7 linked regions of the Homo sapiens genome follow. The protein of the gene in region 3 interacts with the protein of the main gene of each other region in a pairwise test. Each region holds a gene or a part of one and is shown on either strand. Other genes may lie near its edges.

Region 1 (3,500 bases), on a different chromosome or scaffold from region 3:
ATAAATTAATGAGACATGGTGGCATGTACCAGTATTCCCATTCCAGTTACCTATAATCCCAGCTACTTGGAAGGCTAAGGCAGGAGGACTGCTTAAGCCCAGGAGTTCGAGTCTGCAGTGCAAGTCTGCAGTGAGCTGTGATTATACCATTGCATTCCAACCTAGATGACAGAGCAAGATTTTGTCTCTTTAAAAAAAAATGAGGACAGTTATTCAGAGGGATTAAGTGACTGAAATCATATAATAATAGTTCTATGTTATACCCAGTTTCCTAATATTCAAGGAAATGGGTATAAGCCTGAAAGAATTGTGTGTGTGTGTGTGTGTGTGTGTGTGTGTGTGTGTAAGGGGGGGTGAGAAAGAGAGAGACTGTGTGTACATTTGTATTAATTGATGTGATATGGTATAATATTGTATCTCAAAACCTGGCTCAATTATCCTCAATTATTTCATCCACTTTGTATTTGCAACTTATAGCCTTACCTTTTCTTTTTTAACCATCGCTTTGCTGGGTTCCTACAGTATGCAGAGACTACTGCTGGGAAGGATGAGTACTGAACCCAGAACTGATGAATAGCAGTGAACGCATTATGTGTGCCCTACAACCATCATGATCTACAGACCAACCATTTGTACTCTTTTCTTGTATTTCTATCCATCTTTTCAAGGGGATCATGTAAATGAACCAATGTTTTAGCAATTAAATTTAACTTTATACTCTTAGCCCTTTGTTTGCCTTTTACAACAATTCAACAAATATTCATTGAGTACTTACCTGGCAGTGACCATTACATGATGAGCAATATTCTGGATTACCAAGAAGAATAAAACTGATTTTGCCCTACAGATACTTACGGCGTAGGGGGAGGAGGCAGCAAAGACTTTCACAAATTATAATTTAAAGTACTAAGATTGTAAATAGGGGGAGCCCAAAAGTGGGAACAGATAAGTCCAAAAGTTAACAAGTCTGATGACATTTGATATGAAACTCAAGGTATGGGTGATTTAAGCACCAAAGAAGGTGGGAAAAGACATTTTAATTAGAGGAAACATGCTTAAAAGCTGCGAATTACAAAGGTATACAAAATGTTCTCCGATAAAGACTAATTCAGTTTAGCTAAGTTTAAAGTGCACTTGTGTGTGTGTGCACATATGTGCATATGTTCAGAGAGGAGGGTTGGGGGATGGGATAGGATGAGGATGGAAATTGCTATGGGTAGAAACCTCTCTTGTGCAAGAAAAAAGAAGCTACTGCCTCTTCTTATTTGTCTCTATGCACTTGAATTTATAGTCACAGGGGCTCTATGAGGATAATTCCAGGAAAAATGTGCAAAGATGATATATACAGTCTGTCCAGCAGTGTGACTTCTCAAGTGATTTCAAGTACTGGGTATTGGATGGGCGTGCCCTCTATGACAGGAGACTTGGAGACTTCCTTCCATACACAGGGAGGCTGAAACCTGTAGCCTGCAGGCTCAGAAAACCAGCTCAACTGAGGAATGTGGGCCTACAGGCATGAAACCTGGTCTCTTTACCCAGTGTAAACAGGAAGCCAGTGATGGTTGTAATAAGGAAAACTGAGACTCCAGGCAATGAACTGTTGGCAGACAGCACCTAAAGCAAACCTGTGGACCAGGCACTCGGCTGGTAAATAATTGGTGGAAAGTCAAGAATAATACGATGTCCCCCCTGTCCCCACCACGCACACTGCTGCTATACTTTATCCTAACCAACACACAGCCCCTGTGTAACTGGAGTTGTTAAAACCTGACCCTCTGTATTTGGGACTGAAATAAAAGAGAGAGCCAGAGGTGGGTGCATAAAAGCTTTTAGGGAAAAGTATGTGGCTGGTGGCATTCATATCAGATGACACAGCGTTCCTGTCACATAGATTTAGTTCAGGTGCTTGAAATGCTCAAGAGCCAGCTCGGGGACTTGGCCTTTTGTCTGCCTCTCCTTCAATGCACTGCTTGTCACCCTGCTTGTCTCTCTGTAACCATGCCCTCCCCTGGCTTTGAAGGGGCTCCTAGAAATGACTGGAAATGAAGTCCATCTGACTCCAATGAAATGCCAAATTCATTGAGTATGAAATAGTGCCAACTTTTACTTTCTAGCACTTTGATTTTGAGTCTACAGAGGATTCTTAAGGAAAGAAGTTTATGATGAAGCCAGAGGAAGCATTCAGTAATCCAACTGGACAAGATTTACTGATCTATGAAAAGGCATCCTGATAATCCAGACTTTGGATAATCCAGACTTTGTTGCAATAGAATTGTTGAGATGAATTATACTTTGATTTTTAAGAGATCATGGTTTGGTAATGATGATGAGGATGATGTCAGTGATGATTAAGCAGTTATTATTTATTGATTCCTGGCAACAAGCTTCCTTTATGGCCTTTGCAATATAACTCCAAATTTCAGGCTCATCTCATTCTGCTTTCCTAATCCTTTATATAATATGTGAGCACACAAGTGCATGTATGTGCACCCCTCCATTCACAGCGTGTATACAAACACTTTATTTCACTTAATCTTTACAACCACCTGATAAGTTTGATACTATTAATATTCTTATTTTATGGCAAAGGAACTATAAATTTCAGAGAGGTTGGATAACTTGCCCAAAGTCACACAGCTATGTGAGTATCATAGTTCCAACTTAAGACCCCTCTGCCTGATCCTATACTTCCTTTAGTTCAGTGGTTCTCAAGAGAGGGTGATTTTTCCCATGGGGGACATATGACAATGTCCCAGTGTCCCAGTGAGATATTATCGGTTGTCATATCAAATGTATACTTACAAAGGTATATAAAATGTTCTCTGATAAAGACTAATTCAGTTTAGCTAAGTTTAAAGTGCACTTGTATGTGTGTGCATATATCTGCATGTGTTCAGAGAGGAGGGTTGAGGCATGGGATAGGATGAGGATGGAAATTACGATGGGTAGAAACCTCTCTTGTGCAAGGAAAAAGGAGCTACTGCCTCTTCTTATTTGTCTCTACACACTTGAATTTATAGTCACAGGGTCTCTATGAGGATAATTCCAGGAAAAAATATGCAAGGATGATATATACAGTCTGTCCAGCAGCGTGACTTCTCAAGTGATTTCAAGTACTGGGTATTGGACGGGCGTGCCCTCTATTACAGGAGACTTCCTTCTATACACAGGGAGGTATCTGTCTGGTATCTGGTGGGAGGAGGATAGGGAGGCTGCTTAACATCCTAACATGCAGAAGACATTCTCTGCCATAGCAAAAGATTGTCTGGCCTAAAATAGCAATAGTCCCAAGGTGAAGAAACTTTGGTTTAGCTGTACAGACAGCCACATTTGTGACTCTACTTCATAGAAAACCAGATGAAATATTTGAGTGGAGGTATAGGTATAGGAAACACATAAGAGAAAAAAAGGTCAACTTTTCCCTTGAGTTTGTGGGAAGGCATTGTGGAAGATACAGGATTTAAGCTTGGTTTTGAGAGATGTGTTGGAGAGTCGGCACT
Region 2 (3,500 bases), on a different chromosome or scaffold from region 3:
GTCTGCACCTCGTTGGTTTTAATCCAGGGAGGAGCTCCTGGATTTCTTTTTCTCCCCCACAGAGGGAAACCTTTTGTTTGCGGTGGGCCAGAGTTAAAACGGGGCCTTTACCACTCACTCAGAGTGTTTGGTGTGTGTATGTTTGTGTGTGTGTTGGGTGAAGTGGCGACTGGCATCTGGTATGTCATGAATTGAGACCTATAATGATTTGCCAGGGTGTCTTGGCTCTGGCCTGAGTCGGGTATGTGAAAGCCTTTTGGGGCAGGAAGGGGCAAAGTGATACCTGGCCGTCCCACCCTCTGGTCCCAGAAGGAGCTCTCGCTGGAGCCAGGCAGCCTCCAGTCCCCCTCCTTTCAGCCTTGTCATTCTCTGCATCCTGCCCAGGCCACAAAGGAGTTATCTGGGGCTGAACCCCTCTCCTTCCACAGCAGAGGACCAGGGGTCTCCTCCCTCTGACCAGCCTCCAGTCTGGGGAGCTGTGTTTTCCTTTTTCTTAAGCTAACTCCTGATCCCATTGAGGGACATCAAGGGCAGTAGTTTGAAGAAAGCCTCATCCTTGGCCCTGCTTTTCCGGGAAGCCGACCTTCCCTCTACCCTGGTGGTGCCATCATTAGGGCGTGTGGCCGAAGGAGGCAAATTGTTAGGTGCAATCAGGAAGCCGTGTCTGCATCCCATGGCTGAGGGACAGCCAGGATGACACTTAGGCTGTCTCTCACTCCATCCTCTTTGGGGAGTCTGGGATGCTCTCAGAGAGCGGGGTGAAGCCCAGCAGGAGGACATGTCTCTCGTAGGCCTTGGTCTGCTTGAACATGGTGTCAGTCCCATGGAGGTGGTCCAGCACACCCAGCACCCCATAGCACTGGTTGAACCTAGAAGAGAGAGGACGGCACTGCAGTGCCCATGCTGGAGGCTTCCGTGCAGATCCCATTTCATTTGTGCCAGCCTCACACATTTCTCAGCCCTCCTACCCCACACCTGTCACCACCATCCTGACCATCTGCATCAGAATAAGCTGGGGAGTTGCTACCAATGCATCTCCCGGGGGCCACTCCAAACCTGCAATTTGCCGTATCTGGAGTCCTCCTTTGAAAAGCTTGCTGTGTGATTGATGCCCACAGTCTGAGAATCTCTAGCAGAACTAGGCTTCTTCAGGTATGAGATCACCAGCATCAGAATCCCCTGGAACACTTAACTAAAATGCAGGTTTCCAGGCCCTGCTCCCCCAGATACCTTAGTTCAGCATATTTGGAGTGGAATTCAAGAGCCTATATTTTAAACAAGCATCTCAGGTGATTCTGGTATAGGAGGTTTGTAGACTACACTTGAAAAAGTCTGGGGCTTTCAGAGATACATGACTTCCTTGTGATTGCCTGCAGGAGTTTTATGCATATATGTACTTTTCTAAAGAGAATGTCCAGAGCTTATTCAAAGGGCCCAGAGTCCAAATAAAGGTTTAAAACCCCCAGTTGGAGGAGGACCCAATTTCAGAAGGAAAAGAGTAAGGTCATCCCAGTGTGGTTATTTTCCCAGCCATCAGACCTCTTCCCCAACTAGCACTCACATGTAAACTGAGATACCAGTGCCTGCTATCAGAAGCTTAAGGAGGGAGGGTGATGGTTGTTGCCTAGGGACCCATTGTGGGGAGAAGGTCCTTACTTGAGATGGTGGTAGTCGTGGAATTCAGGCGAAGGCAGGAAGGGAAGGTGGTAGCCACAGTGGGAGATGGTGGTGATGATGAGGGCCAAGGAAAACCACATGGTGATGGAGGACAAGTGGGAGCCCATTACTAATGGGCCCACTATCACCGGTAGCATGTTGGAGACCTGCAAGAGGAGGGATGATTGAAGGCAGGGTCCAGGGAGATGAAGGGACTTAGTTGGGTATACACTTAGTCCCAAGGTGGTACCAGAGGCAAACTTCCTTGACCCAGATCTGGAGAAGGTGAGAGTTTCGGGACTTTGATTTGTTGAAGGCATTCACCTTTGTAACTTGGGACAAATTACGCAGTTTGAGCCTCAACTTTCTTGTTAGCAAAATTAAGATTAAAAAGGTTGTTGGAGGAGCCAGGTGTGGTGATTCATGCCTGTAATCCCAGCAATTTGGGAGACAGAGGTGGGAGGATTGCTTGAGGCCAGGGGTTCCAGCCAGTCTGGGCAAAATAGCAGGATCCCGACTCTACAAAAAAATTTAAAAATTAGCCAGATGTGGCCAGGTGCGATGGCTCACTCCTATAATCCCAACACTTTGGGAGGCCAAGGCGGGTAGATCACGAGGTCAGGAGTTTGAGACCAGCCTGACCAACATGGTGAAAACCTGTCCTACTAAAAATACAAAAATCAGCCAGGCGTGGTGGCACACGCCTGTAATCCCAGCTACTCAGGAGGCTGAGACAGGAGAATGGCTTGAACCCGGGAGGCGGGAGATTGCAGTGAGCCGAGATCATGCCATTGCACTCCAGCCAAGATGACACAGTGAGACTCCAGATTTGGTGGTGCACACGTGTGGTCTCAGCTATTTGGAAGTGCACACGTGTGGTCTCAGCTATTTGGAAGACTGAAGCTAGAGGATCACATGAGCCCAGGGGTTGGAGGCTGCAGTGAGCTATGATCACACCACTGCACTCCAACCTGGGTGACAGAGCAAGACCCTGTCTCAAAAAGAAAAAAAGAAAGTTGTTGGGATGATTAAATGAGACAACTGTGTTAGCACTTAACATAGCCTGGCATATGGAAGGCTGACAATAAATGGTAGCTATTTTTAAATGGGAAGAAAAAGGGCCGGTGTGGTCTAAGTTCTCTGCAGGAGACCTTCAGGAAGGTGGTTGGGGCCATCTGCCCTTTGCTCTGGGGAGCATAGAGCTCTACTCACTGCATGCTCTATAGGGTGGGCATAGAGAGAGATCACGCCAATGGGAGCTGTCCACTCATGGTGTTTCTTGTGGATTTTCTTGTAGAATGTTGGGTGGTGAAGGAGCCTGGGGAAATAGTTAATAGTTAATAACCTGCTGATTCCTCTTTCTCCCTCCCCGACCAGACCATGAGAAACCAAAAATAGGAACTAGGGGTTACATCCATGGAGCAAAGTTAACAACACCAAGACCTGCCTTCAAATTTCAACCCCAGCCCTTATACTGCATAGTTTGGGAGTGGGTTGCTTTGCTTCTCTATGCCAGTTGTATTCGCTGTAAAATGGGATGCTGCCCAGAAAGGACTGAATAAGGAAATGAATGGGAAACTGCCCTGGCTCCCACACAATCAGAGAGGCCTTTTCTCTTTTGGACATTCATTCCTCAGTTGTCCCAAGTTGTCAGTTATGAGACAACTAGTGGTCTCCCTGTTAACTATTTAATGGGACACTTGAGGCCAGGGAGTATTTTACTGGCCTACACTCAATTCAGAAGCCTGTTCCCTTTTATTTTTTTTCTTTGAGACAAGGTCTTGCTCTTTCGCCCAGGCTGGAGTGCAGTGGTGTGATCACAGCTCACTATAGCCTTGACCTCC
Region 3 (3,500 bases):
AAAAAAAAAAGAAAGAAAGAAAGAAAGAAAGAAAGAAAGAAAGAAAGAAAGAAAGAAAGAAAGAAAGAAAGAAAGAAAGAAAGAAAGAAAGAAAGAAAAGAGGTGTCCATTTATTGATGCAACTCAGGACAGCTCCCACTGTCTTGTCTTTTCTTTTCTTTTCTTTTCTTTTCTTTTTTTTTTTTTTGAGACAGGGTCTTAGACTCTGTCATCAGACTGGAGTGCAGTGGTACAATCATGGCTCACTGAAGTCTTGGCCTTCTGGGGTCAAGTGATCCTCTCACCTCAGCCTTCTGAGCAGCGCAGCTGGGACTATAGGCATGCGCCATCATACCCAGCTAATTTTTTATTTTTTATTACAGAGATGAGGTCTCACTATGTTGCCCAGGCTGGTCTTGAACTCCTGGGCTCAAGCAATCCTCCCACCTAGGGTTTCCAAAGTGCTGGGATTACAGGTGTGGGCCACTTACGCCTGGCCTCCCACTATCTTTGTTTGAGAACTTTTGATATATACAAGAGGTCCATTCTTCCGTAAGGATGTATTTATGTCCTCAGCTGCAGACAAAGGATTCTGACCACTGGTGGTGTTGGAGCCTGTGGAGCTCAGTGGCCAACTTTGACCTTTGAACTTTAAAGAAGTTCTTAGTCCTTCAGTAGAGAACCTGGAAATAGAACTTCAAATTGTTCAGGTCTATCTGACATGTCTTGGTGGAAAACTGAAGGTCCTTTGCATTTAAGGCTTTGGAGACAGAACGGAGACTGAATTCATGAGACTTCATGCAAGCTTCCATGTCTCTATGTACTTTAATTTCCTTATCTATACAATGAAAATAATACTCACACATAGAGTTATTATGTAGATGAAAAGAGAAAATGTATATAAAAGCATGAGACATAACACCTAGCACATAGTGCTCAATAAATACTCATTATTATTGGAAGGCAGCAGACAAGGGTAACATTTATATTGAGGGATGGAAAATCGGGCCTTACGCTCTATTCTAGGGTCAAATCTGTTGGTATGATCTTATAGCTCACTCCGTGTCCATCTGGTTAGCTGGATAATTTTTTATTTCTTTCAGTCGGAAAGCAAGTGTATACTTTCATAGTTTTGAGGGTCAGAGTTCCTGATTTTATGGGATTTTTGAAATTAAAACAATTTATAATAACTTAATCTCCAATTGCAAAATGTTATTGACACTGCATTTTAATGTAATGTGTATATATGTAATTTCCCTGCTTTAAGGGAGGGTTCAAGACTGACCTGTTTGTCTAGACTTGCTGAATATGTCTCATTATTTTCTGTAATAGTTTGGAGATGATGATGCTATTCTTCTCAATGCAAGTGGAATCTTGTTATACTGAAGTTAGATTTTGCCAAAAATTTTCCTATACATGAAAAGTCAAGAGACTTACTTAGCCACATCCTCTGTTTATGCTACATTGGAATTTCATGGCTAAAAATACAAGGCGTGACTTTCCACTGTACTCACAGGCATTCACTGTGTGCTTTTCCACCTTTGCTGGTATTTGTAACAGTTGGCAGAGCACCAGGATAACCTCTTGCCATCCTTGACCAATATCATGATCACCATGGGCTTGAAAATTGTATAAACATGGAAGCAATCACATAGGTAATCAAGGATATAGAATCAGTCGGATATAAATCTCACTTTGCTTCCCATAATCATGAGTCTTACCTTTCTGCTGTTTGAGCCAAAGCCATTCAGTAGAGAAATGTTGTGCTGGTTCTCCAGAAGTTCAAGAGTAAAGTGATATAATATGGAATTCCATTCAGGACTTAGTAATATGGAGAGTCAAGGAATGTAGCACTATCATAGACTAAGAATTTGGAAAAAACTTTCTAAACAGCCTCTTTGTGGATACAGAGGTTTGAGAGCTGTGGCAAACTGCTTTTTTTCTTTTAAATTGCCTACTAGTCAGGAAGAAATCTTTGCTTAAAGTAAGCATTCTTAATAGGATAAAATAATTTTGGGTTTCATATGGAATAAAATATAAGCAAGAACTGCTAAGACAAGTTTGAAAAGGGAAATTTATGTGGAGGTATTTGCCCTACCATATATGAGAACACTGTAATTAGTCTAGTATTTGTTCAGGAAAAAAGAAAGTTATTTATCAATGAGCTAGAAGAGAATTTCCAGAAAATATTTTGTGTACACTTGGGCATTTAATAAATGATAAAGGTGACACTTCAGTATAGTGGAAAATGGTTTATTTTAGTAGATTATATTGACACACTTGCATCTCAATATATTAATAGAAAAAATGGATTAGTCTCATACCTGTTACCATGCAAAATATAAATTTTAAGTCAGTTGAAAATATAAGCATAAAAGTAAAAAGTAGAAGACAATATTTGAATGCCCTCGGATCAGGGTAGGTCTTTAAGATAAGAAACTCAGAAGCCATTAAAAAAACAGCTCTGACTATATAAATGTTAATTATGGCAAGTCATAAGCAAAGTCAAAGATATACACCATGCTTGGAAAAAATACTTGTATTATTCATGGTAATATGAGCCCTAATTTTAAAAGAACTCCTACAAGTTGAGAAGAAGTCTGACAAGCAAGATTGTTTAGAGAGGAGGACACAGAAGAAGCCACTTGACATGAAAGAAAGCACAACCTGATAGAATCCAGAGTGTCGGCTGGGTGCAGTGGCTCACGCCTGTAATCCCAACACTTTGGGAGGCCAAGGTGGGTGGATCACCTGAGGTCCGGAGTTCGAGACCAGCTTGGCCAACATGGTAAAACCCATCTCTACTAAAAATTAAAAAAAAAAAAAAAATTAGCCTGGTGTGGTGGCGGGTACCTGTAATCCCACCTATTCCAGAGGCTGGGGCAGAGAGAATTGCTTGAACCTGGGAGGCGGAGCTTGCAGTGAGTCAAGATCAGGCCACTGCACTCCAGACTGGGTGACAGAGTGAGCTCCAGCTAAAAAAAAAAAATAAAAAAAAAAAATAAGAGTGTAACAAGAGTGAGATCAATTTTTCAATGCTGGCATGACAATTAGAAGGGACTGATCACATCCGGAGTAGGCAAGATTGTGAAATGTAGCAATCTTTTTGGAAAGTAGTCTGAAAGTATATATTAAAACAAAAAACACAGACTTTTACATAGCAATTCCACCTTGGGAATTCACAGAAAGAAAAGAATCATTTCAAGTGAAGTATGTATGAGAGTGTTTATTATAACATTATTTATAATGGCAAAAAACTAAAAGCAACTGACCTATGGTTAATGAAGTGATTGAAGAAATTATGGCATATTTAGATTATGGCATATTTCGCAGTTCTTTAAAAGAATAAGTTTAAATGTATTGGTCTGAGAGGATGTCTGTGATAGATGAAGTGGGAAAAAAAGCAAACAAGTTGCAGAGTAAGGTATATTATAAGGTTCCTTTTTTTATTTTTAGAGACAGGGCCTCCTTCTGTCCCCAAAGCTGGAGTGTTGTGGTGTGAGCATAGCTCACTGCAGCCT
Region 4 (3,500 bases), on a different chromosome or scaffold from region 3:
ACACTTGGATGTTTATGGTGAGGGTGGGACTAAGAAATGGAACAGAAGCAGAGCTAAATCGCTTTGATTGGCTGTTCATCGAAGGGGCGGGGAAGACTTAACAACTGCTAGCTGCTTTGATTGGCTGCTTTGCTTAAGCACACAGTGCAGCAAAAATAATCACCTGTCAGTTATTGGAAGTTGGAGTGAAAAGTATAATAACCGTAATTGACAGCCTGTCGTGAAGGAGGCGGGGCTTAGTTCCTAGCCTGCTGACTGGGCAGGGAGGTAGGTTCTACTCAGGAGATGTTACTGCTGGGCGTGGCTTGCGGGGGCTCGGAAGTGATCGGAGCCACTGGGTCTAGTTTGGGGAAACCCGGGGGTGGGTACAATCCCATGCTGGGGGTCAGGGCCTGCAGATGCGCCAGGGCCCGAGTTCCGTTGAAGGTCACCTCACAGCCTGACTTGGCTAGGAGCCAGTTCTCCACCTCCGACCGGAGCCACCTGGAGGTCTCTGCAAGGGGAGAGGCAGGTGTTCTGAGGTCACACTGAGATCGGGGAAGATTCGAGGGAGCAGCAAGGAGGGGCGTAGGGCAAAGAACAGGAAGGGCCTGGGTTTGGGAGAAGCCTAGGAGTGATCTTGAGGCTTGGAGGGGAGCGGAACAAGGCCCAGGAGGGTCGAGAGGGCCAGAAGGCCCAGCTCTGGGGCTTTCGTCTGGGGACCAGTCAGGGGCTCTTGGGCAGGGAAGGTGGGGGCTCCTGTAGGCAAGGGGACCACCTGGAGCCCACACAGGGAGCGCGCAGGATCTCTTGTAGGGAGAGTGTCAGCTCAGGTAGAGGAAAGAATGACAGGAGGGGGCCGTGCCATGGAGCCAAGACTCCCAACCAGGCTGAGGTTAAGAAAGGGCTGTCACATCAGGCACCAAGATCGGAGTCTGGATTCGGAGGTCCTGTCTGCTGAGGGCCGGGGTCTCTTCGCAAACCCGTCAGGTTCACCCGTGGGAACTGGGGGTGGGGACGCATCTCGCTGGGGCGGGGCCTCGCGGGGGTGTGGCCCCTGGGGGCAGGGTCCCAGGGCCACGTCCTACCTTCGGGCGAGCCTTGAGTGCCCCCTGGCCGCCGGGCCAGGAAGCTGTGAGCCAGCAGCGCCTCCTTGGTGTGCTCGTCCTGCGCGCGCAGGGCCAGGGCGCTGAGCAGCTCCGAGTTGTTGGACGTACTGCGATAGTACAGCATGTGCGCCAGCTCCAACGCCTGCGCGCTGCGCCGCTGCCCGAACATCTGCAGGCGGGACAGCGCCCCGTGGGCTCAGTTCGGGGTGCGCCCCCACCCATACACAGCCCCCGGGGTCACCCCCGCTGGCACGGCCCACGCCGCTTACTCCCCTGAGGAGGCGGGGAGGTCCTACCCAGACCTCTTCAGTACGGGTCCCCAGAGCTCAGTCGAGGGATCTATTTGGGGATTTTTGGGGTCTGTCTTTTCTTTTTCTTTCTTTTTCTCTCTTTCTTTCTTTCTTTCTTTCTTTCTTTCTTTCTTTCTTTCTTTCTTTCTTTCTTTCTTTCTTTTTCTTTCTTTCTTTCGTTCTTTCTTTCTTTTCTTTCTTTCTCTTTCTTTCTTTTCTTTTCTTTCTTTCTTTTTCTTCCTTCCTTCCTTTCTTTCTTTTCTTTCCTTTTTTTTTTTTTTTCGACAGGGTCTCGCCCTGTAGCCCAGTCTGGAGTTCAGTGGCTATTCACAGGCAAACTCATAACGCACTGAAGCTTTGAACTCCCGGGCTCAAGCGATCCTCCCGCCTTGGCCTCCTAAGTAGCTGGGACTACAGGTGTGCGCCACCAAGCCCGATATTTTTTGTAGAGACGGGATTCTCCCTGTGTTGACCAGGCTGGTCTCAAACTCCCAGCCTGGAGTGATCCTCGCTCCTCAGCCTCCCATAGTGCTGGGGTTACAGGCGTGACCCAAGGCACCGGCTGGGGATCTGTATTTTTAACACACGTGCCCTCATTCCAGTGGCTCCAAGACCACCAGCCCCATCTGGCCTACAGTTTTCAGCAACCACTGCACTGGTTTGCTCATCTGAGCCATGTATTAATGGATTTACCCAAAGGTTTGCAGATGATAGGAGTTTTAGCTTTGAAAGATTTTGTTACAATACATCCTTATGTTTTAGAGACATAATAAAGTATTTCCAAATAAGTCTAGGTAGGATTTACTTCAAAATCATCCAATAGTAGGACAGTGGAGGTCTTCAGGGGAAATCTGATTAACTATTGCTAATTGTTGATGCTAGGTGCTGGCTAGTGGAGTTTATCATACTATCCTATTTCTGTGTTTGTTTGAACTTTTCTATAATGAAGGAAAAAATGGTTTAAAATATTAAACTGTAGGCCAAGTGCAGTGGCTCAGGCCTGTAATCCCAACGCTGAGAGGCCAAGGTGGGTGGATCACCTGAGCCCAGGAGTTCAAGACCAGCTTGGGCAACATGGCAAAAGCTTCATCTCTACAAAAAATTAAAATTAAAAAACAATAGCAGGCTGGGCTCAGTGGCTCACGCCTGTAATCCCAGCACTTTGGGAGGCCAAGGCAGGTGAATCACCTGAGGTTGGAAGTTCGAGACCAGCCTGACCAACATGGAGAAACCCGTCTCTACTAAAAATACAAAATTAGCCGGGCATGGTGGCTCATGCCTGTAATCCCAGCTACCCGGGAGGCTGAGGCAGGAGAATCGCTTGAACCTGGGAAGCAGAGGTTGCAGTGAGCCGAGATCATGCCATTGCACTCCAGCCTGGGCAACAAGAATGAAACTCTGCCTCAAAAAATAATAATAATAATAATTAGCTGGGTGTGATGGTGAGCACCTGTAGTCCCAGCTACTCATGAGGCTGAAGCAGGAGAATCACCTGAACCCAGGAGGCTGAGGCTACAGTGAGCCATGATCATACCACTGCACTCCAGGCTGGGCAACAGAGTGAGACCCTGTCTCAAAAAAAGAAAAAAGTTAAATTGTAAAGAGAAGAGGAGAGGGGAAGGATGTTGGGGGGAAGAACAGGTCTGGGCCCAGCTGTCTACTGGCTGCCCACTTCCCCACCGTTAGTCTCTTTGCTTGGACCCCTCTTCTCATCCTTGATATTGGTAAGGAGAAATGAGGGCATCAGTGCCCTCTGGGCTCCCACTGAAAAACTGTGCCCAGGCCAGATGCAGTGGCTGACACCTGTAATCCCTGCACTTTGGGAGGATGAGGAGGGCAGATCACTTGAGGTTAGGAGTTCGAGACCAACCTGGGCAACATGGTGAAACCCCATCTCTACTAAAAATACAAAAATTAGACCTGGCACGGTGGTTCATGCCTGTAATTCTAGCACTTTGGGAGGCCGAGACGGGCAGATCACTTGAGGTCAGGAGTTCGAAACCAGCCTGGCCAACATGGTGAAACCTTGTCTCTACTAAAAATACAAAAAAAAAAAATTAGTCAGGTATGGTGACAGGCACCTGTAATCCCAGCTACTTGGGAGGCTGAGGCAGGAGAGTCG
Region 5 (3,938 bases), on a different chromosome or scaffold from region 3:
GACAACTTTACACAGATTTCAGTTGTAGCCCTTTCTATGCCAGTAGGCTAAAGCAGCCATTCATTCGGGGGCTGATGTACTCATTGGTCATCTTGCCTGGCATTTCTAATTGCTAAATCCTCCTGGCTTCTCCATCATGAATGAATTTGGGGGAAGGGGAGAGGGGAGGAAGAGAGACCGGTGAGCTTGGCTGAGTTGTGTATTTATAGAGTGATCCTTCCAGTGCCTACAGGGAGTGTTTATGGTGTGTAACCACAACAGAACAGGGACTGCCATTTGTAGCCACAACTCCATTCCAAATGTTACCAGGCCCAAAGCCAGTAGCTGAAGAAGCTGTCTACTATAAGGCATAAATCTCAGCCTTCGCTCAGAATAGCCAAGGCTGAGTCACGGGGCACATGTGTAAAGGCATTTTACACAGAAAGGTGAGATGTTCCCTGGAGTGATGTGAAAGGTTCCAGGATGACTGCTGCCTGCCCCAAATCCCAGCTACCTCTCCCAACCCCACCCTCCTTCAACTGCCATCCATATTCCCAGTCCCCTGAATTCCATCATCGGAGACCCATTTGCTTTGATATCTCAACCTGGGTATCCATTTTGAGTGCAAATGCTTTGGAGAAATGTGACTTCCCAGGCTGACTTGCCAGCCATTCTGCGTGGGATAAGCATCTTATTACATGCAGCGAGAAGAGGCAGTAAAATGGGGGTGTTACGATGTCCATAATTTACTTTCAAACATTTCAGTATACTGTAATATTATGCAGTGTTAGTCAATTTAAGCTATATCCTAAAGGCAATCAGTTACATTTATCAGAAATTCACACTCTAGAGGTAGTCCTCTAACATTTATACAAAAAGAAATCATCACTCTAGAGGCATCTTCTACAATCACTTCATTTCTCTTAATTTTTAATCAAACCCAGAAACTCTGCTGGTTAGTATAACATTGGAAATAAGTTTTGGTTTTCATAATTATTATCTTATTAATTAGCATAAAGGATGCCAAAAGTGGATGCTCATGGGTAAGATTACTTATATTCAAGATACATGGAGTAGCTAAAATATTTTAGATACTTTCTACTCTTGCACGAAGAGGGCAAAATAATTATAGTCTTGTAGCCTGTATCTTGAGAATGATGCCTAGGGTGTTATCCCTAAATGGTCCTGTGGCTAGCCAAGAATTAGGAGGTTTCTTGTTGCCTGATACTGACTATAAGATTAACTGAATCTTTTTTTTCTTGTGGTAAAATATATATGACATAAAATTTACTGTTTTTAAGTGTATAGCTCAGTGGCACTAAATACACTCATATTGCTCTACAACCATCACCTTAAAACTCTCTACTCATTAAACAATAGGTCCCCAGTCTCTCCTTCCACCAGCCCCTGGGACCACTGTTCTACTTTCTGTGTCTGTGAATTTGACTACGCTAAGTACTCATGTAAGTGGAATTATACAATATTTGCCCTTTGTAACTGACTTGTTTCACTTAGCATAATGTTTTCAACTTCATCCAAGTGGTGGCATGTGCCAGGATTTCCTTCCTTTTTAAGGCTAATATTCCATTGCATGTATATACCACATTTTGTTTATCTACTCACCTGTTGATGGACATTTGGGCTATTATGAATAAATGTTGCTACAAGCATTGGTGTACAAACATCCATTTGAATCCCTGCTTTCAGTTCCTTTGTGTATAAACTCAGAATGTAGAATTGCCAGATCAAACAGTAATTCAATATTTAATGTATAGAGGAGTCTCCACACTGTTTTCCACAGTGGTTGCACCATTTTAACATTCCCACCAGCAATGCACAGCGTTCCAATTTATTGACATCCTCACCAACACTAGCTGTTTGGTTTTGTTTTTTGATGATAACTATCCTAATGTATGAGATGGCGAGAAAGAATGAATCTTGCCTCTAGAATATTATCACCTTCCCCTGAAGGAATGTTTTATGCAAGGTGAGATCACAACACCTAAAAGGACAGTAAACTGGGACTTTTCTGAGCTCACAGAGATTCCAGGACTCATTTTATGCCTGCTTCTTCATTTGTTGTGTGGCAGAATTTGGTCTGGGACTTGCTTTCCTTAGAACCTCATAGCCAGGTTATGGGAAGTAACTAACCATCACCTGCCACTAATTAATGACAGCTGCCATGATATAACAAAAGAGCCTGGGTTTCTAAATTGGCTTAGGTGGGTTTTCACTGGGGGTGGTGGTAGGGTTTCTCTGAGATGAGTTGCCCCTGCGTCATGGTTTTCCCCAAAGATGGCGCCACTCTTCCTAATAACAACCCCAGAGTAATTCCCTGACAATAAAGCTTTGGTTCTAGACAGACAGCCCATGGGACATGTAAGTCGCTCCATAGTAGGATCAGAAATTACTCAGATCTTACACAACTCAGCCCATCTCAGCCCTTCTTGGTCCCTCTGCCTGTCAGCACGTACCTGTCTACTGTGGCCACGGGCAGGGCCCCATGAGCAAGGTGTTGTCGGAGCATGTGCCTCAACACTCCTTTGCTTTCAGTCACCTGGCGATAGTTGCTCCAGAAAATTCCACTCAGAAGGATCACAAACCCCAGAGGCAGAAGCAAATAGGCCGCAATCAGGCTCCCCTGACAGTCGAATATGGAGCCCCAGGAAATGAAGAAGGCCCCCAGGCAGACCATCAGGAAACCCATCAGGAGGGCAAGAGCACAGAGAATGAGGCCAGTTCTGTTCTGCATCCTTGCACCTTAGGAACCCAGCACCCTGACCCTGCTGCTCCTCTGCTTCCCTGCTTGCTCCAAGAGAATGAGCTCATTAGCCAGCTTGCAGCTTTATATGCTCTGGGACCCACTGGCCTTTGGACAACTAAATGAAACAGGCACTTAGAAGCTATTCATTAACCATTGAAAGTAAGTGTAATATCCTTGGAGAATTAGCCAAAAAACATAGCATTGTATACTGCAGGCAGGAGTGGCTTCGTGTAGCTGTTTTGTTCTTCAGAGTTGGGTGGGACACTCAGCTGTTCCCAGTTATTTGAACGTACAGCCCTCCTTTGATTAAAAGGCGCTGGTCTCTTAATCCCCATGGAGGGCAATTCCCCACTAAAAGCTGGAGAAGTTAGCACTCTTTAAAGAACGATCTTCTTTGAGGTTTGGTAAGAAATCCCTTCCTGATTCCTTCTCCCTTTTTCTGTACTAAAAAGGCATTTCTTCAAGGCTGTTAACATGTTTGTCTTGCCTCCCTCAATGAATCCCCACTTATTGCCCCCACACTATGATACTGGCATAATTCCAAGACAGAAGTTCAGAGTGTGAACTTCGTGGTTCCTGCTCTGTTGACAAGATCGAAAGAGCCTGAGTGGGAGGGAAAGGAGAGTGCTGGAGAAAAGGACTATAATAGACAGAGCCTCGGGAATTTGGGGGGATTTTGGGCCTGTAATTCCTGCAATCTTTCCCCCTTTCATAAAGTACATATGAAATAGAATTCGTTTTAGAGGATGCTGCTAAAAATGTTCCCTGTCCTCTCCTCCACACCTCTGCTCTATGTAGCATTGCCTCAAAAAATCTTTCCAGAACCAGCCTTCTGTTTCCTGGCTGGAATTTGTTTTCTTTAGCTTGACTGTCTTTGATTGTGGATAGCTTATTTCAGACGTGCTTTATGCCCTGGCTCTGCCCTTTTTTATTTGATAATGTGGCATGTCTCTGCCAAAAGTCTCCTTCCCATAGGAACCCTGGGTTGCTTTTACTCAGGATAGCTTATCTTCAGTTCCTCTTTGCTGCTGTTCCACTCCACTACTCCATTACCATTATTTTCCATTTACTTTCCCAATGAGAGCAGCAGTTTTTTGTGGCGTGCCCTAATAATCCCTCATATAACCTTTAGTCTCACACTCACCATCTCCTTAGCTCTACCTTCATGTTAGGGCTGGGAGACACGGATATTAGA
Region 6 (3,500 bases), on a different chromosome or scaffold from region 3:
AGCAAGTTTTCTGTGGACTGTTCCCCCCACTGTGGTAGGACAGGACTGGCCCACTTAGTCCTCAAGCTCCCAACCTGCTGTCCCTCAAGCCCCGCTTCTACCAGCCTGTGGAGTTCAGGAGGCGAGACATCCTGGCCTCCTTTGAGAACTGATGGGATCTACCCCCTGTCCACGCGGGACAGTTTCTCAGAACTGGTTCATAGACCACCTGTGTCACCAACAGCCAGATACCTAATCCCTGAGCCTCCTTTGGGAAGGTCTGGGGCCGAGGGTCTGGGAATTTTTTTTTTTTTTTTTTTTTGGGACAGAGTCTCATTCTGTCACTCAGGCTAGAGTGCAGTGGCATGATCTTGGCTCACTGCAAGCTCCACCTCCTGGGTTCAAGCGATTCTCTTGCCTCAGCCTCCTGAGTAGCTGGGACTACATGCGCACACCACCACGTCCGGCTAATTTTTGTATTTTTAGTAGAGACAGGGTTTCACCATGTTGGCCAGGCTGGTCTTGAACTCCTGACCTCGTGATCCACCCGCCTTAGCCTCCCAAAGTGCTGGGATTACAGGCGTGAGCCACCGTGCCCGGCCCAGGACTTTTAAAACAAGCATCCCAGGGGATTCCGGTGCCTACCAGAAGTCGCAAGCTGCTTGGCTCTGGAGGGCGCCTAGGAGTCGGTGTCGCCTAAGATGGGATAATGGCTTCAGGCAACTCCTAGCCTTCCCCATATCTCCTGCCTCAGCCCCCCTGGCCCAGTGCTGGGGCGTCAGCTAAACCTGAGCTTCCAAGAAGTCAGGTTGCCAAAGGAAGGAGCCTTCTGAGACCCTCCCCAACCCACCCAGGTTCCCAAGGCCCTGCCGTACCCTGGGGAATCAACCAAGGAGTTCTTGTTCTCGAAGAACCCCAGGCCTCATGATGGTCTACGGTAGAGGTCCAACAACTACAGCCTGTGGGCCACATCTGGCCACAGCCTGATTTGTAAATAAAGTTTTATTGGAACACAGCAACACCCATTCCTTTCTGCATTGCCTTGTGCTCTGGGGCTGCAGGTGAAGAGTAGCTGCCACAAACCACCTGGCCCATAAAGCTCAAAATAGTTGCCATCTGGCCCTTTACAGACAGCTAGCTGACTCCTAATCTAGGGCAAACGCAGGTGCCTAAAAAGGACCAGAAAGGAGACCAGAATGAAGGGCAGGGGGGTGGCAGGGCCTGTGGCAACTGGAGAGTAGGCGTCCTGTGCCACGGGAATGTTGCCAGGTCCGTTTTTCTAGGGAAAGCAGAAATCTGGATTTTTATGTGGAATCTCACTGTAGGGGTGGGGAAATCTCATTTTAAAAATGTAATCAGGCCAGGCACAGTGGCTCACACCTGTAATCCCAGCGCTTTGGGAGGCCAAGATAGGAGGATGAGTTGAGCCCATGAGTTGGAGACCAGCCTGGGCAACATAGTGAGACCCCATCTCTACTAAAAAGTATTAAAAAGTAGCAGGGTGACCAGGCATGGTGGCTCACACCTGTAATCCCAGCACTTTGGGAGGCTGAGGCAGGCAGATCACAAGGTCAAGAGATCGAGACTATCCTGGCAAACATGGTGAAACCCTGTCTCTACTAAAAATACAAAACAAAACAAAACAAAACAAAAGCCAGGCATGGTGGCACGCGCCTGTAGTCCCAGTTACTCGGGAGGCTGAGGCAGGAGAATCACTTGAACCTGGGAGGCAGAGGTTGCAGTGAGCTGAGATTGTGTCACTGCACTCCAGCCTGGGTAACAGATCGAGACTCCCATCTCAAAAAAAAAAAAAAAAAAGGAGCAGGGCATGGTGGTGTGTGATTGTGGTCCCAGCTACTCCAGAGGCTGAGGTGGGAGGATCCCTTGAGCCCTGGAGGCGGAGGCTACAGTGACCTATGATGCCACTGCACTCCCGCCTAGGCAACAGACCCTGTCTCAAAAAAAAAAAAAGTAATTAAAAATTTTAAAATTCCTTGAGGAGGGCTAAACAAGGCATGCCTGTGGGCACTGCTGTGAGGTCTGGCCTAGGGATTTGTAGGGCCACAGTTAGGGGGAGCTGAGGCCCATATATGAATGGTGGGGCAGAGCACTCAGCCAAACCTGGTGGCCTCTCTGCCTCCCGTCGAATGCAGAATCTCACCCAAGCGATGCCCAGTGGCTCTGACCCCGCCTCAGGGTGCGGCCCCTGGGGGTGAGCCTGCCAGGCACCCCCACCTCCCTCCCACAACATCCAGAAGCTCTGGGAAGGAGGGGGGAGGTGGTTCCCCTCCACAGGGGCCAAGGGTCTTGGTCCCACTCTCCAAGTACCTGCCACGACACTGCAGGAAGGTGGGCTGCAGGATGGGGGGGTCAGGGAACCCCGAAGCACAGACGGGAACGTCCTTGTCCCCTTGGACGACCCAGGGCCCGGGGCGCCCTCTGGTGGCGAATCTTCTCACAGCCTGACTCAGGATGCCCCCAGCGCTCCAGGGGCAAGAAGAGCACGAGGCAGACGCGGTGGGTCTCTGAGAACTTAAAATAACCCTCACCACGTGGCGGGGTGGGCGAGGAGGGGGCTCACAGCAGAAGCAGAGTGGCCCCGGGGTGGGGGCGCCACAGGACACTGAGGGTTCACACCACCCCAGCCTGGGCCTGGTAAGTAGCAGGTCAGCATAAATCCAACCCCGCGAGGCACATCCAAACCCCACCCAGAGGGGTTCAAATGACAGGAGTGGGAACAGAGGGGCTCCCTGAGGCTTCAGGCCCCATCCCCAGGAAGACTGGCCCGGCCTCAGCCACCTTCAAGCACAGGAGTGAGGCCTCGGGTTCCAGGGACGATGGGGGACCCAGCATTAAATATGTCATAAATAGGTGGGCGGACACTGTGCGGACAGGCGGGGCTCACATTCCTCTAGACCACTGGGGTCCACTGGGGGACCAGGGCCTGGGCCCTCTCCCAGCGATGCCACGGGCCTGAGAGGGCTGCTGGGAAGGAGCCCGGGAGCCCCCTGCAGTCTGAAGTCCGGGCCGAGGGCACAGGAGCCCGAGGCTCACGGCTGCTTTGTCTTGCCTCTGTTCTTCTGGAGCTTGGCATGCACGACTTTGAGCGTGGTCAGGAAGTTGCCGAGGAAGAGGATGAGGAAGGTGAACGCCAGTACGAACACCTGGGGGAGTCCAGAGAGGAGGGCGAGGCTGGGGCATCTGCCCTGCTGAACCCCTGCCCCCAGCACCCCAGAATCTCCAGCACAGCTGCCCCCAAACTCCCAAACTGCAGGGTTTTGCCATCGAAGGCAGAGATTCAGGAGACCTGGGGGAAGGGTGAGGCCTCAGGCTTGGGCAGGGCCTGGGAAGGGCTCGATGGGGCGAACCTCCTTGGGATCCACAGATTGGGAGAGGCTCCACCCCTAGCCCTTCCAGAAGCCTCCCGCCAAGCAGGCCCCCCACAACACCCCACACCTGCCAGCCCAGCCCGCCCCAGGAACCTCCCCACAGCACACCACACACACGCACACACCCCACCC
Region 7 (3,500 bases), on a different chromosome or scaffold from region 3:
ACCCTTGTGCACTCTTGGTGGGACTATAAAATGGTGCAGCTGCTATGAAAAACAGTACGGTGGTTCCTCAAAAAATTAAAAATAAAACTACCACATGATCCAGCAATCCCACTTCTGGATATTTATCCAAAAGAATAGAAAGCAAGGTCTTGAAGATATATTAATATGCCCATGTTCATAGTAGCACTATATGTAATAACCAAGAGGTGGAAGCAACCCAAATGTCCATCAAGGAATGAATGGATAAACAAAATATGCAAAGTGTGGTACATATATACCATGGAATATTTCTCAGCCTTAAAAAGGAAGGAAATCCTGTCATATGCCACAACATGGATGAACCTTGAGGACATTACTCTAGTCATAAAAAACACTGTATGATAAAACACTCAGATAAAAAACACTTATCTGAGGTATCCAAAGTAGTCAAATTCTTTTTTTTTTTTTTTTTTTTCTTGAGACACGGTCTCACTCTGTGGCCCAGGCTGGAGTGCAGTGGTGCAATCATGGCTTCGGGCTCCAGCCATCCTCCCATCTCAGTCTCTCGGGTAGTTGGGACTAGAGGCATGCACCACCACACCTGGCTAATTTTTGTATTTTTTGTAGAGACAGGGGTTTCACTATATTGCCCAGGCTGGTCTCGAACTCCTGGGCTCAAAGGATCCTCTCGCCTCGACCTCCCAAAGTGTGGGGACTACAGGTATGAGGCACCGAGCCCAGCCTAAGTAGTCAAATTCATAGAGGCGGAAAGAAGAATGGTGGAAGCAAGGCGCTGGGGGAGCAGGGAAAAGAGTGAGTGTTTAATAGGTACAGAGCTTCAGCTGGGGAAGATGAGGAGTTCTGGAGATCTGTTGTACAATGAGGTGAATATACGTAGTACTATTGAACAGCACACTTAAAAAAGGGTTAAGATGGTAAATTTTATGTTACACATTTTTTACCACAATAACCAAAAAGATAAGCAAGGCTATCAGAGGGGGTGGGGCTAGGGCTTGAGACCAGGAGAGGCTGGGCGCTGGGTGGCCCTATAAGGCAAGAACCTCTCTTTTCCTGTCGGAGCTCTCCCTGTGTGAATGGGGTGGGAGGCCTCACAGGATCCTGGGGAAGGACTCATTTCACTGGGGCTGGAGCATACGCTTGCCTGAGCTTCTGGTCTGGCCAAGACCTGGGACTCTCCTTAGGGAAGCCCCACCGTAGGGACTAACAATGGGGAAGAGACTGCCCCCCATCTCAACAACAGTTACTGGGCTTCCAGGCAGCCAAAGGATGAGCCAGCCCTCTCCAAACACTGAAGGGAAGTGAATCCCTTCCCACCCTAAGACCCCCCAGAGAGAAGGCAGCCCCAGTGAGCCCCATCTGCCCTGGAGCAACTTGGGGACTGTTACTCTTGGACACGGCTGGTACATACCACTGAGGCTCCAGCTCCCTGCAGTCTGGCCTTGCTCTGCTTCGCCTCCTGCTTCCTCCCAAACCAGCTCCAGAGAGGGGAAAAATCCCCCTCTTCTCCCCTCCCTTGCGGGCTTTCAAAGCTCCTCTCAGAGCACAGCCTCAGAGCTCATCTTCACCCCAAAACACCAGCTCCACCCTGCTTCCAAGCTGCCAGCTCCATGAAAATCTGACTTCTACAGGTAGGTGTATGTAATGTACATGTACTCATAGAAAGAAAAAGCCCACAAGAAGACTCCACATGTATGCAAGCAATGTTTTCTGAGCTGTTTGTAATGAATATTGCTTGCTTTTATTATTATTTAAGAAAAATGTATAAAGCTCAGCTAAGTTCCTCTGGTTGCTACCATAAGCACCCCAAATCTCTCTACCTCCCAGCACAATGCACCCTCTCCTTATAGCTACAGGAGGATCTACAAAGTACGGAGTGTTAGGAGCAGTGGGATAAGAGACAGACAGGCAAGGAGAGGGAGCAGTCACAGTAACAGCCCCTATGCAAAAGTCTTCCCGACTCTTACAGAATATAGCCTGGAACCTCAAACGACCTGACCCCAGGCCAGCAAAGCCCCGAGTTGGCACTTGGGTCAGAGAAGCCAATTCCTACACACATACTTTCTTCACCCACAAACCCTCTCAAAGCTGCAGCTCAGGCAGAAAGCCTCTGACACATGGGCATGCATAGGACTCTGGAAAGAGATGCTGGAGGCTGGAGATGTGGAGCCAGCCCAGGAATCAAGGTGGCCTTAAGGTTAGGAGTAGACAGGATGGGCAGGGGCAGACAGTGAGTAGCTCTTCTTCCTCCTTTGGCCAAATTCAGCCCCATCCTGTTCATCCAGGCTAGGAGTATCTGCCCCTGAAGTCACACCCGTCTGCCAAGCAGCCACCCACGCCTTCCTGCTCTGATGGGGATGAAAAAGGGCATGTTCCAGGAAGTGCTGCCCTGCTTGGAGGTGAGGGGAGCATCTAGATTTTAACTACTTCTCAGAAATGCAGCTCCTCATCTCTTTCCTTCTCTAACCTTGGTGTGAGGGGCTCATGGATCCCTGGTATTCTGCAGGTGAGGGAATAGACTGCCTCCCCCATAGCCAAAATGAATCCTGAGGCACAGCAATCACCTTAAGTCTCGATCCTCAGTGGTCCTGCCAGTACCTCTTCCTTGCCCTTCCAATGCGCCTCTTCCATCCTTCACCTACTCCAATCCAAGCTCATACACTGACCCTGACCTGCCTTCAAGGGTTCTGGCCTGAGCCACCTCAGGAGGGTAGCAGCAGGGAAGAAAGTCAGAGCCAGGAATCAAGACATTAAGAAGACTTAAATTCCCAGATACAAGCTTTAGGCTCCAGGCTGGGGAGAATCTGGGCTCCTGTGGGAGAAGCTGGGCTGGAGCTGATCTTTTAGGGTAAGGACTGGGTCAGATGAGATTACAGTAACCCCAGGCTTCACCTGTCTGAGGCTTTTCCAAAAGGCATCCTCTAGGTGTCCAGGAAAGGGCTTTAGGGCAACACCTGGATATACGGTGCAGGACAAAGCAGGAGCAAAGCAAATGGGTCCCTGACAGCAGGCAGGGGACAGAGATGGGAAAAGCAGAAGGGGTGGTCAAGTGAAGCAGATAAGAGTGTCCCGCCCAGGGATGCTGCGGCCACAGGAGCAGGCCAGGCACAGGAGGAATACTTCCTTCCCACTCTACTTCCCCAAGGCCACGCTTGCCATGCACTTTCATCGTTGTAGACTTCTGTATACACAGCAGGATCTACTTTGTTCAAGATCCTTAGCAGGTGAGTAGTGAGTTAAAATAAGGACCTGTCTTAACCTAGCTGGGAATTAAAGTGCAGATGGGCACACTACTTCCTGTCACCCCATCCCTCACAAAGGCTGACAGATAAAGGGAGTGAGACATCCGGAGCAGCCTAGGACCAAACTGGGCAGATGGGCACAAGGCTCCTGCAGTGAGGAGGCTCCCATATCCCAACCCCCTTCAGAAGCCAACACCAGGCCCCAGCCTGCTTCCCTTCCAGATGCTGCAGGAACTTTCAGCCATGGTTGGGAAGTTAGAG

The links.
Region 1: the proteins of SLC10A6 (region 3) and TPRG1 interact in binary tests that used the Homo sapiens proteins (3 or more experiments, as listed by UniProt).
Region 2: the proteins of SLC10A6 (region 3) and FAXDC2 interact in binary tests that used the Homo sapiens proteins (3 or more experiments, as listed by UniProt).
Region 4: the proteins of SLC10A6 (region 3) and TMEM143 interact in binary tests that used the Homo sapiens proteins (3 or more experiments, as listed by UniProt).
Region 5: the proteins of SLC10A6 (region 3) and TMEM252 interact in binary tests that used the Homo sapiens proteins (3 or more experiments, as listed by UniProt).
Region 6: the proteins of SLC10A6 (region 3) and TMEM120B interact in binary tests that used the Homo sapiens proteins (3 or more experiments, as listed by UniProt).
Region 7: the proteins of SLC10A6 (region 3) and SLC41A1 interact in binary tests that used the Homo sapiens proteins (3 or more experiments, as listed by UniProt).

Annotation. Positions count from the first base shown.
Region 1 is NC_000003.12:189,314,971-189,318,470, forward strand, and holds part of TPRG1 (tumor protein p63-regulated gene 1 protein), read left to right. Parts: intron 1-522; coding exon of another isoform or gene 523-558; exon of another isoform or gene 559-723; intron 724-3,500.
Region 2 is NC_000005.10:154,819,604-154,823,103, forward strand, and holds part of FAXDC2 (fatty acid hydroxylase domain-containing protein 2), read right to left. Parts: intron 2,975-3,500; coding exon 2,869-2,974; intron 1,824-2,868; coding exon 1,657-1,823; intron 870-1,656; coding exon 713-869; 3' UTR 1-712. UniProt on the Homo sapiens protein: Promotes megakaryocyte differentiation by enhancing ERK phosphorylation and up-regulating RUNX1 expression.
Region 3 is NC_000004.12:86,839,385-86,842,884, reverse strand, and holds part of SLC10A6 (sodium-dependent organic anion transporter), read left to right. Parts: intron 1-3,500. UniProt on the Homo sapiens protein: Transports sulfoconjugated steroid hormones from the extracellular compartment into the cytosol in a sodium-dependent manner without hydrolysis.
Region 4 is NC_000019.10:48,332,941-48,336,440, forward strand, and holds part of TMEM143 (transmembrane protein 143), read right to left. Parts: intron 1,258-3,500; coding exon 1,068-1,257; intron 494-1,067; coding exon 279-493; 3' UTR 1-278.
Region 5 is NC_000009.12:68,538,084-68,542,021, forward strand, and holds the start of TMEM252 (transmembrane protein 252), read right to left. Parts: upstream 2,801-3,938; 5' UTR 2,732-2,800; coding exon 2,454-2,731; intron 1-2,453.
Region 6 is NC_000012.12:121,775,252-121,778,751, reverse strand, and holds part of TMEM120B (transmembrane protein 120B), read right to left. Parts: intron 3,144-3,500; coding exon 3,030-3,143; 3' UTR 1-3,029. UniProt on the Homo sapiens protein: Necessary for efficient adipogenesis. Does not show ion channel activity.
Region 7 is NC_000001.11:205,803,199-205,806,698, forward strand, and holds part of SLC41A1 (solute carrier family 41 member 1), read right to left. Parts: intron 1-3,500. UniProt on the Homo sapiens protein: Na(+)/Mg(2+) ion exchanger that acts as a predominant Mg(2+) efflux system at the plasma membrane.